Regions from separate parts of the Homo sapiens genome. Here region 2 is linked to region 1. Evidence: fine-mapped expression QTL. A gene starts in region 1. The other region holds a variant in brackets. All regions are shown on one strand. Distances are from middle to middle. Region 1 holds the start of SLC35A1 (solute carrier family 35 member A1). Region 2 overlaps RARS2 (arginyl-tRNA synthetase 2, mitochondrial).

Region 1 (5,535 bases):
TAGATAAAGGGTGAACAAACTATATATGTCGCCAGTTTACATGAGGCCTGTGAACTCACGATTGTTTTACATTTTTAAATGGTTGATAAAAAATGTAATAACATCTTGTGATATGTGAAAATTGCAGGAAATTCAAATTCTAGTGTCCATGAATAGTTTTATTAGAACATAGCCATGCTCATTTGTTTCTAAATTATCCAGGCTACTTTTTTTTCCCTACAACAGCAGATCTGAGTAGTTATGACAAGAGACTATCCAGCCCTTCACAGGAAAAGTTTGCCATCTCATGTCCTAGATTATCAACACTTTCATAAATAAGAGAAGTTAGGGCTGATAAACTAAAAAGTACTTTATTTTAGCTACTGTACAGGTTCCTGATTCCAAAAACAACAAAGTGAATATTTAAACACTAAACCAAATATTGATAGCCTACAAACATATTCTGACTTATAATATTGTCATTAACTTGAAAAAATACCTTTTTGCATAGTGAGTATATGGGAATATATATTATATTCTTGAAAATAACTACTGATCTAAGTGGAAGGGTAATCAAATAAGTTTAGGTATGTGCAAAACAGATTGGGCTTTGACATGGAATACCAGTTTTTAAACGTATTTCAACTTTTAAATACTAAATGTTTTTAAGTACGATTTTCTCTGGCAGTTTAACATCAGACCAAACTATTTCTTGTTCACTCCATTCACAAATTCTCCAGTATAAAACTTCAGTTATTAGCAATTTCAATTATTTCAGGGTAACAGCAAAAGTCCATATGTAATCACTTCAAATTGGGCAAATAATTCAAATCACACCCAATGCCAGTAACTATAAAGCTAGCCCACAACTCAACTGGCAGCCACATCTTAACCCTGCATTGTTCCCTGCTTCTCACGAAATTCTATTAGCTCCCATATAGTGTTTGTGTGGAAATGTCCCCCAAAAGAAACTTACAGTTTAAAATGTTTTTTTTCGGTTATGTTTTACTATAGTTTATGGGGACATTATTTGTAATACTTAAGAACTTAGAAATTCTGTAAGTCCCAGATAAATCCTTTGTGGATATTCGGAAACTATGGAAACTGTAGTTTTGTTAGGATTACAATCAAGGCTCAACAAATATGTATTGGCAATAAGCCTAAACCTTTACATTGTTGCAGCTATTTCAAGTAATGATTTGACTTCTGTAATTTATAAGTTTTCGTTCGGATCAATTTTGCTATCCCCATTCCATTTTAGTTATCAAAACAATTCTATTTCTTTTTCTTTTATTTCCTGTGTTGCTACAAAAAAAGGCTTTTAAGATTGGACTTATTTGAAATGAAACAGAAAGAAGACATAAGAGAAGCATATGCAACTAAAGACAATGCCCCTGGGCAGGGCCTGATGAGAAACATGGACCCCGCAACAGGGAAAATAACTTGAAACCCACGCAAGAAGATATTCCTTATGTATTCGTTCAATATTTATTCAAGGGTGAAGCCAAGTGCTCTATGGAGGAAGGGTGGAGCAAGAATCCGGGTGTTGCCCAACTTCTCCTGGTTAATGCACCACAGTCAAAGAATCCACCTCTGGTCCCAACTTACACACACTGCTCAGCAAAAAGTGGTGCGGAGTCAATTAGACTCGCCCTCCTTAAATGTCAATTAGTCAACAAATACGCCTTCACCCGAATGTGCCATCCCTCAGGAGGAGGGAGGTGGATCTCAGCTTCCACCCCAAATAGCAGCATACAGCATTCTCTATAATTACACACAGCATACAGGTGGGAACTGTTAACGACTGTTATCTTCCTTTCGTTACGATTTCAGTGCTGTTTTGACGCCCCAGTGATGTCTTTAGTGGTTGTTGCATGGCCCAGCCGCCGCATGGGATCTGCGCCCGGAGCCTGCCTTTAAGCCTCTGAGCATCCACAGGGTAGGAGGCGCAGAGGAGACCGGAGCCGCGGGGCCAGGGTGAAGAACTGTCCTGCCTCGCTGGGTAATGCGGTCCAGCCCCGGACCCACGCCCTGGCCTCTCTCCGGGTCCGCCGCAGCCCCGGCCTGTCAGAATTCGGTTCCCACCCACTCCCAGCTAGTGGAGGTCAGTGCGGTCTCTGACTCCGACCTGCCCAGCGCGGAGTCAGCCGCGGAGACTGCAGCCGCAGCGGAAGGCAGGCTGCCCTGACTGCCGGGAGCGGCTCCACGCAAACTCCTGACGCCTCAGCCAGGCCCCAGAGGCACTGGGCAACCAGGGTGCTCCGCTGCCCGACAGGGGCTGACCAGCGCAGATGCTCGCCCGCCGCCGCCCCCCGCGGACTCCCCACTCCCAGCAGACCCAGTTCTCACCTCTCGGGGCAGCCATGGTTCCCCGACAGCCCCCCGCGGAACTGACGCCCGCCCCCTCCGCGCCCCCGCGCAGGACACCGGGGACCGCCCCTTGTGGTCATAGAGACGAAGCCGCTCGGCCTAGAGCGCCTCGCCGGCCTCCCGGTCGGCCACGCACTAAAACTGGGCTCAGGAATCCAAGCTACACCCCAAAATGGGGAGAACGCGGATCGAAGGGAGGCCTTCCCGGCCGCGTCCTAGGTGACAGGTGTGTGAAATTCGGTTGGGGAGGTAGTTCTGTAAACTGCGTCTCCCCGCCAGCTAAGGAAGTTGAGTGAAGGGAGCGTTGCCGTCTGGGAATCGTAGTCCTCACAAAGGCGTGAGTAGGCGGCAAATAAGGATTTGGGTTTAGCCTTGGGGATTCACTCCTGTCAAAGCTGTTAGAGAAGCTCCCAGAACTCGTAAAGTAACAGAAACTACTTGCGGCAACATTTGTAACTTCCACCTGGCTCATTATCTTCCACTGTTACCTTGTGTTCTAGATAAGTTATAATTTATTCTACATATCGTTCAGAAGTCTTGTGCCTGTTCCATATCGTCAGCAGTCATCGGTTGTATTTACCCAGCCAGGCATTCTAACTAATGATCTTCGCACAACAAAACGGCCTTTAAAAAATCAGATGTATCGGCCGGGCGTGGTGGCTCACGCCTGTAATCCCAGCACTTTGGGAAGTCGAGGCAGATGGATCACCTAAGGTCAGGAGTTCGAGACCAGCCTGGCCAATATGGCGAAACCCCGTCTTTACTAAAAATACAAAAAATTAGCCGGGCGTGGTGGCGCGCACCGGTAATCCCAGCTACTCAGGAGGCCGAAGCGGGAGAATCACTTGAACCCGGGAGATTGCAGTGAGCCGAGATTGCGCCCCTGCACTCCAGCCTGGGCGACACAGCGAGACTTCGTCTCAAAAAACAAAAAAAATTAGATATATCAACAGGCATTTTAACCACTATAATCTCCACTTTCACTAGGGGATGTTAATTAGCTATCATAATTGATATTAGAAATAATTCATTGGTGAAATAAATGATGTTCAAGATATGTGGATTGGTTTAAAATAATATGAAAATACCTCAGCACTTACAGGAATAGGGATGCAAGATTCTGAGCTGCCCAGCAGCCCACACCTTCTGCAGCATGTTCTTTCCCCAAAATTGTCCTTTTAGAGGGTTGGTTGTATACCATTGTCTTGTTAAATATACATATAGATATATCTGGTCTGTTAACATTGTTGGAACATTTTGCATGCCTTATTAGCATCATATTAATATTGGGAGGGGCTCCCAGGAGACCAGAGTTGACTTTGTAGAGGCAGACATTTGATTAATCTCATTTTGCAATAGTGTTGGACTTTTCCTCTACCTGGTAGTAAGTGTGCTCACTGGTGCTAATCTTCCCTTATTGTAATTGATACAGTTTCCACTAGTAGAATTATTCAGTTCTCTACTGTGTATGTACTTATGCATACATTTAAACAATATTCATATATGTACGTGAAATTAATTTTAAAAATTAAAAATATTATATCATATAGTCCTTCGTTTTACAGCTACTGCTTTGTATGGTTTATCTTGTCCCATTTTGGACTATCATTATAGTGTCAGCTTACATCAATTAAGTATAATTTCTAAATGCTCAATTTGTTCCAAAAGGCACTTGTAAGCCTGCCTCTGTTTTCAAGTCTGCACCAGCTGTTTTTACTTTTTTTTTTTTTTTGTCTTTTTTTCTTCTTGTAGAGATTGTGGGTGGGGGCGTCTCACTTTGTTGCCCAGGCTAGTTCTCGAACTCCCCACCTAAAACAATCCTCCCACCTCAGCCCCCCAAAGTTCTGGGATTACAGGTGTGAACCACCACACCTGGCCTGCACTAGCTTTTTGAAGCATGTTTTAATTTCTGGCAACAAGAGGTTTTGTTTTTTCCTGTCCTAGGTGGTAGAATCAACTAGGAACTATCATTCCTTCTGGTGAGGAAGCGCATTTTACACACACACACATGCACACACACGCACACGCACACACACACACACACAGAGATCCCAATTAAAGTGGTGGGTCAAATGTTGCTGAGCCATTTTTGTGGCATTTCTGGTTCACATAACATCATGCTGTTGAATCCTACTTTTCTTATACATTTTCATTGCCTCAAAAGACTATTATACTTCACTGGCATCAAACTTAACTAGATTTTCATGCCTCTTTGTCCTAACCCAGTTAGCCCAATACCAACAGGACAAATCTGCCAAACTATAGTCTGACAAAGTTGAGCTTACTGATGCCTTCTGATATAAAGTGGGTATTTGTCCCTGCCCAGATGTGATGTTGAATTGTAATCCTCAATGTTGGAGGTGGGGCCTGGTGGGAGCTCTGGATCATGAGGACAGAACCCTCAAGAATGGCTTGGGCCATCGCCTTGGTGATAAGTGAGCTCTTGCTCTGAGTTCACAGGTGATCTGGTGTTTTAAAAGTCTCTCTCTCTCTTTCTCTCTCTCTCCTGCTCTGGCCATGTGATGTGCCTGCTCCCACTTCGCCTTCCACCATGAGTAAAAGCTACCTGAGGCCTACCCAGAAGCATATGCCAGCACTGTGTTTCCTGTACAGGCTGCAGAATCATGAGCCAATTAAACCTATTTTCTTATGCATTACTCAGGCTCAGGTATTTCTTTATAGCACTGCAAGAACCACCTAAAACACATTCCAATGAGGGAAACTGAACACCAGAGGTATCTCAGGAAACAAAAAAGATAAATTTATAGAATTTTAGGGAAGGATGGGATTAGGTGAAATTTAAAGGAAGCAGTGTTTGATAAACTCAAAGCAGGACTATATGTATCCAATAGGGACTGTAGAACAGTCTCAGGATCCTGTTTCTTGAAAACTACAAAGTTACCATAGATGTGGAATGTTGTATTCAGGAGCCCCTTAATTGAGGCTGCTTCTTTGTATGAAAATGATGTAGATCCCCCCAAGCAAAAGTAGGGTGTTTCATTCTTACTGATGTAATTTCAAGCAGCAAGTTTTCCTAGAGTATATGATTTTAGAGAACAAAGTTTTTCAGTGAATTAGAAAGCAAACACTCAAAGAAGGGCCTTGCTATTATACTTTATAGTGTCAGCATATACTTAGTTATTTCCCATTAACTTTGCAGCAGGGTTTACCTGGGTTTGTTATCCC
Region 2 (5,000 bases), 90 kb before region 1:
TCATTTGGAGGTCAGTGGAGAGGTTTGAATTAGAAGCATGTATTTGGAGTAGTAGAGGAAGCATTGTAGAAGAGGTAAAGAGACCTGGGCTTTTTTCTCAGTCTGTTTTTATTTGCAGTAGGATTTTAAAGGAGACATTTAGCTTGCCAGACATCAGTTTTCATGTCTATAAAATAAGGTGGCTAGTATAAGAGGAAGAATTTTTTGAGACTAGGTCTTGCTCTGTCACCCAGACTGGAGTGCAGTGGCATGATCTCAGCTCACTGCAACCTCTGCCTCCTGGGTTCAAGCAATTCTCGTGCCTAAGCCTCCCGAGTAGCTGGGCTTACGGGCACATGCCACCACGCCTGGCTAATTTTTGTATTTTTAGTAGAGATGGGGTTTTTCCATGTTGGCCAGGCTGGTCTCAAACTCCTGACCTTAAGTGGTCCACTTGCCTCGGCCTCCCAAAGTGCTGGGATCTGTGCCCAGACAGAAGAGGAAGAATTTTATAAGATGATAAGAAAAACATTCTGAATAAATACTAGGTTATTTCTCATTTTCTTGCTTTTAATTTTGTTTTTTATTTATTTATTTTATTTTATTTACTTTTTTGAGACAGAGTTTCGCTCTTGTCACCCAGGCTGGAGTGCAGTGGCACAATCTTGACTCGCTGCAGTCTCCACCTCCAGGATTCAAGCGATTCCCCTGCCTCAGTCTCCCAAGCAGCTGGGATTGTAGGTACACACCACCATGCCTGGCTAATTTTTGTGTGTGTGTGTGTATTTTTAGTAGAGATGGGGTTTTACCATGTGGCCAGGCTGGTCTAGAACTCAACCTCAGGTGATCCGCCTGCCTTAGCCTCCCAAAGTGCTGGGATTACAGGCATGAGCCACCGCTCTCGGCCCCCTTGCTTTTAATTTTGAAAGTACACATAACACCTTCTTCTGGTAAAGGTATGTCTCAATGGAGAACTCATAGTGATTAGTCTTTGTTTAACAACTAATGCTTTTAAGGTAACAGTTCTATCTCGTTTCGATGTCTGTCTTTAGAGAAGTAGCTGATTTTCAGCTTTCTGTGGATTCTTTATTGGAAAAAGACAATGACCATTCAAGACCAGATATTCAAGTTCAAGCCAAGAGACTAGCAGAGAAGGTACGTTAGCACTATTATCTCTTTTTGACATTGTAATAAACTTGTTATTAAAAAAAGTACTTTGCAGGCTATCTCAGCCATAATAGTGAATTTAATAGTGTTTCTTTGAGGCATCTTGTGTAATATAATTTAAATTCATTTTAGCCATGTACTATAAGGTTATAATGATTTTTCAGATTAGTTATAAAGCACTCCTCTTGAGCTGACATTGTTCAATTTTTTGATTAACCACTTACAGGAAGACTGAAGTGTTAATTAAATTTACAGATTGAAGCTGGATGGACTTTTGAATTTAGGAGAACAAGCTTGATAAATTAGAGCAGTGAGTTGCAATTTTTAAAATGAGTTTCTGAAAAGATGAACATTGAAATATGAGAAGAAATGATTAGATGTAAATAGAATCATGATTACAGAGAAGAGGTGGTTAGATGATTTAATAAGCCTCTTTCATTTCTAAGTTCTCTGATGGGTTTGATATCTAACAGAGGAATTGAAAGGATTGCAAGGAATTACTAAACATAAATTGTTAGTGTAATTCCCTCAGAAAAGGCAGATAATGTTGGACAAGGTTATTAACATACATCCACAGAGTCAGTGTCTGGGAACTCAAAAGAATTGGAACAATGAAAGTCACTATCATAGAAAAAGATGCTTATTTAAAGGGTGACTATGATAAAGGAGCATTGGTAGCTTAGTAAATATTTATTTGATCAGAAAATCACTCCCAGATATTTACCAGGAATAGAATTATTCAAAATACAGTATTTAGTTCCTTTTCCCCATTTCTTGTAAGTTCTTAAAAATAAAGACTAGTTGCTCTTTAGTGACAGCAGATATCTCTTCAAGTTCCATAGGTTTTTCATGAGATGGCTTCGAACATCTAATAGGTTAAAAAGTGAAGGCATATGCATAGAAGACA[G/A]ACTATCTAAATTACATCTTATCTGTTGGTGCAGGTGCTTTAGCGTAGACCCTGACAGAATGTCATGTTCTGTGGCTCTCATGAAAGCTAGGTGAGATAAAAAGTGTTCATCGTATGTCAGAGTAGGTAGAATATGGGTAGAGTGATTTTTCTTACTTGTTACAAGGTGAATTTGAGGGGAGGGAAAGAGAATGAGGAAGAGAGAGACTGAATACAGAATAGCATGTTAGTTGGGAAAAAAAGAAAATGTGTTTACTTAAATAGAAGTATGGAACTAAAGAGATTGCCTGAGAACTGGGACCCGATATAGGGACCATGAAAGATGACTTACTTGTGTCTTTGTAAGCCAAAAATAGCATTAGAACTACCTATCTCATTAGGCCTATTATATAACATACCTACTTTGTGTGATTTGTTCTTTTCAGCTAAGATGTGATACAGTGGTGAGTGAAATCAGTACTGGTCAAAGGACTGTAAATTTCAAAATAAACAGAGAGCTCTTAACAAAGGTAAGAATAAGTTAATATCCAGCCATTGTGCTTTCATTCTGTCTGCTTCAGCCACAGTGGTCTTCCTCCAGTTTTTAAATTCTTTATGCCTCCTCTGGCCTCAAAACCTTTGCACATACTGATCCATAACTTGGAGAGTACCACCCCAAGTTAACACCTACTCATCCTTTAAATCTTGATATTTCTTTGGCAGTAGCTTTCTGACCCCTTCATTTATATGCTCTCATAGCACTGTATAGTCATATACCACATAATGACATTTCATACACAACGTGTATAGATGATGGTCCCATAAGACAATACCATATTTTTACTGTACCTTTCTGTGTTTAGATATATTTAAGTATACAGACACTATTATGATACAGTTGCATACAATATTCAGTACAGTGACATGCTGTACAGGTTTGTAGCCTAGGAGCAATAGGCTGTAGCATACAGCCTAGGCGTATAGTAGACTGTATCATCTAGGTTTGTATAAGCACTTGGGAGGCTGAGGCAGGAGGATCACTTGAGCCCGGAAGTTCAAGACCAGCCCTGGCAGCATATCTCTACAAAAAAATTTAAAAATTAGCCACACATGATAGTTTGCGCCTGTAGTCCCAACTGCTCTGGAGGCTGAGGTGGGAGGATCGCTTGAGCCTGGGAGTTTGAGGTTGCAATGAGCTGTGATTGTGCTATTGCACTCCAACCTTGGTGACAGAGCGAGACCTTGTCTCAAAATAAAAATTTCAATGGCCATGAATTTTCAAGCTTTATTGCAATTAACAAACTAAAGAATTTTTCTGATTTAAGGATACCCATTAGCTCACTTATTAAAAATATTCCCAAATCCTTCTCAATTGACATTGAAGGGACAAGAGTCAGGGCTTTGAAGTCCAACTACTCTTTCTCACATGGGAATTCTTCCGTATTGCAGCCTTGAGGATCTGAATCTTAGTGAGAATTTGAATAAAGGAGCAAGCGGACTGCTTACAGTTGCCCTGCTCAGTGTCACAGTAAAATCAGATCCTGGAGCAGTGAGCACTCATGTTCAGAAAAAGACTATTGAATGTACCTCTGCTTTGTGTTACAATTTTAATGATAATTCTTCTTTACTGAAAATTTAATGTATTCTACATTTGGCTGTCAACCTAAAAGGAGGAAACTGAGGCAAAATTAATATAAGTAGAGAGTTTACTTGGGCCAGGCTTGAGGATTGCAGCTGAGGAGCACAGATTCAAGTTGCCGTGAATATACCCTTTGATAGGCAGCAGTTACAAGTGGATTTTTAAAGGGAAAGAAGAGGGAGTTTGAGTTGTTAACCAGAATTTACATTAAAATAATGTAAGCTATTGATAGGCTGTATATTTTTCTTTGTGTCACAAATGCCAGTAACATGAAGATAATGTGTGAGGCAGCTAGTTGGGAACAAAATCACATAAAACAATTGCCCCCACCCATAGGAGGAAGAGTTTGTGCATAACTGATGTTTGATATGCATGTCTTTCTGGGCCTGCATACCTCACATAGCTGAGACTACTCTGAGCTATTTTTCTTTTCTCAAGCTTATAGCATCTGTTTTTCTCACGTATTGGATCTCTAGTTTTATAATTTTAACTGTTTTACAGTCCATTTTTTAATAAGTAGGATAATACTCTAAAATAATGATTAAAAGTAAATATATAAATCACTAACATAGTCATTTATAATGAAGTATTATGTACTGTACATAATTGTATGTGCTATACTTTTATACAACTGGCAGTGCAGTAAGTTGGTTTACACCATAAGTTTTAGGTCTCAGATGATGGTCATTTGCATGGTTTTTTTTGAGACGGAGTTTTGCTCTTGTTGCCCAGGCTGGAGTGCAATGGCACGATCTTTGCTTACCGTAACCTCCACCTCCCGGGTTCAAGCGATTCTCCTGCCTCTGCCTCCCCAGGTAGCTGGGATTACAGGCATGCACCACCGCGCCCAGCTAATTTTGTATTTTTAGTTTCTCCATGTTGGTCAGGCTGGTCTTGAACTCCCAGCCTCGGGTAATCCACCCACCTCACCCTCCCAAAGTGCTGGCATTACAGGCGTGAGCCACCGTGCCCTGCCATCATTTGCATATTTAATGGATTTTTCAGATCACATCAAGAAAAAAAATTCGATTCTTGTTAGGACCAACAAAGAATTAATATATCTTTGTTTGAGAAATAACCATAATGACATTGCAAAGAACTGTCACTTTGGTACCAAACTTCTACCTGTCAGTAGCTTGCAGTACTTTCAAGAGAAACTGTAACTTCAAATAATATTTAATTGTTAAAAGGGAAAAAAGAAAGTATGATCTCAACCAAATAGGAAAAATTCAAACAAAACCCTGTTTTCTTAGGGATGCTTCAGAAATACACAATGGATAACATCATTTTATTTCACGCTTTTTAATTTGCCAAATTAAACTTTGCATG

What was found. PIP is the estimated chance that this variant, and not a neighbour inherited with it, causes the effect.
Region 2: its variant is the best candidate, but not a certain one, in a credible set for the expression of SLC35A1 in lung (TOPMed, PIP 0.55).

Annotation. Positions count from the first base shown.
Region 1 is chr6:87,469,813-87,475,347 of GRCh38, reverse strand. SLC35A1 (solute carrier family 35 member A1) reads right to left here and starts at 2,374. Exons shown (of 8, transcript NM_006416.5): 1 at 2,329-2,374. The coding sequence starts at 2,344. LOC124901357 (a long non-coding RNA gene) reads left to right here and starts at 2,403. Exons shown (of 2, transcript XR_007059668.1): 1 at 2,403-2,575; 2 at 2,850-3,898. RefSeq lists enhancers at 1,506-1,605, 1,656-1,825, 1,821-2,727 and a silencer at 2,276-2,415.
Region 2 is chr6:87,560,264-87,565,263 of GRCh38, reverse strand. It overlaps RARS2 (arginyl-tRNA synthetase 2, mitochondrial), which reads left to right. Exons shown (of 20, transcript NM_020320.5): 3 at 1,032-1,134; 4 at 2,479-2,562. Among named protein-coding and RNA genes, the nearest start is that of RARS2, 27 kb to the left of the region's middle. The variant G/A (reference allele first, on the strand shown) is at 2,054.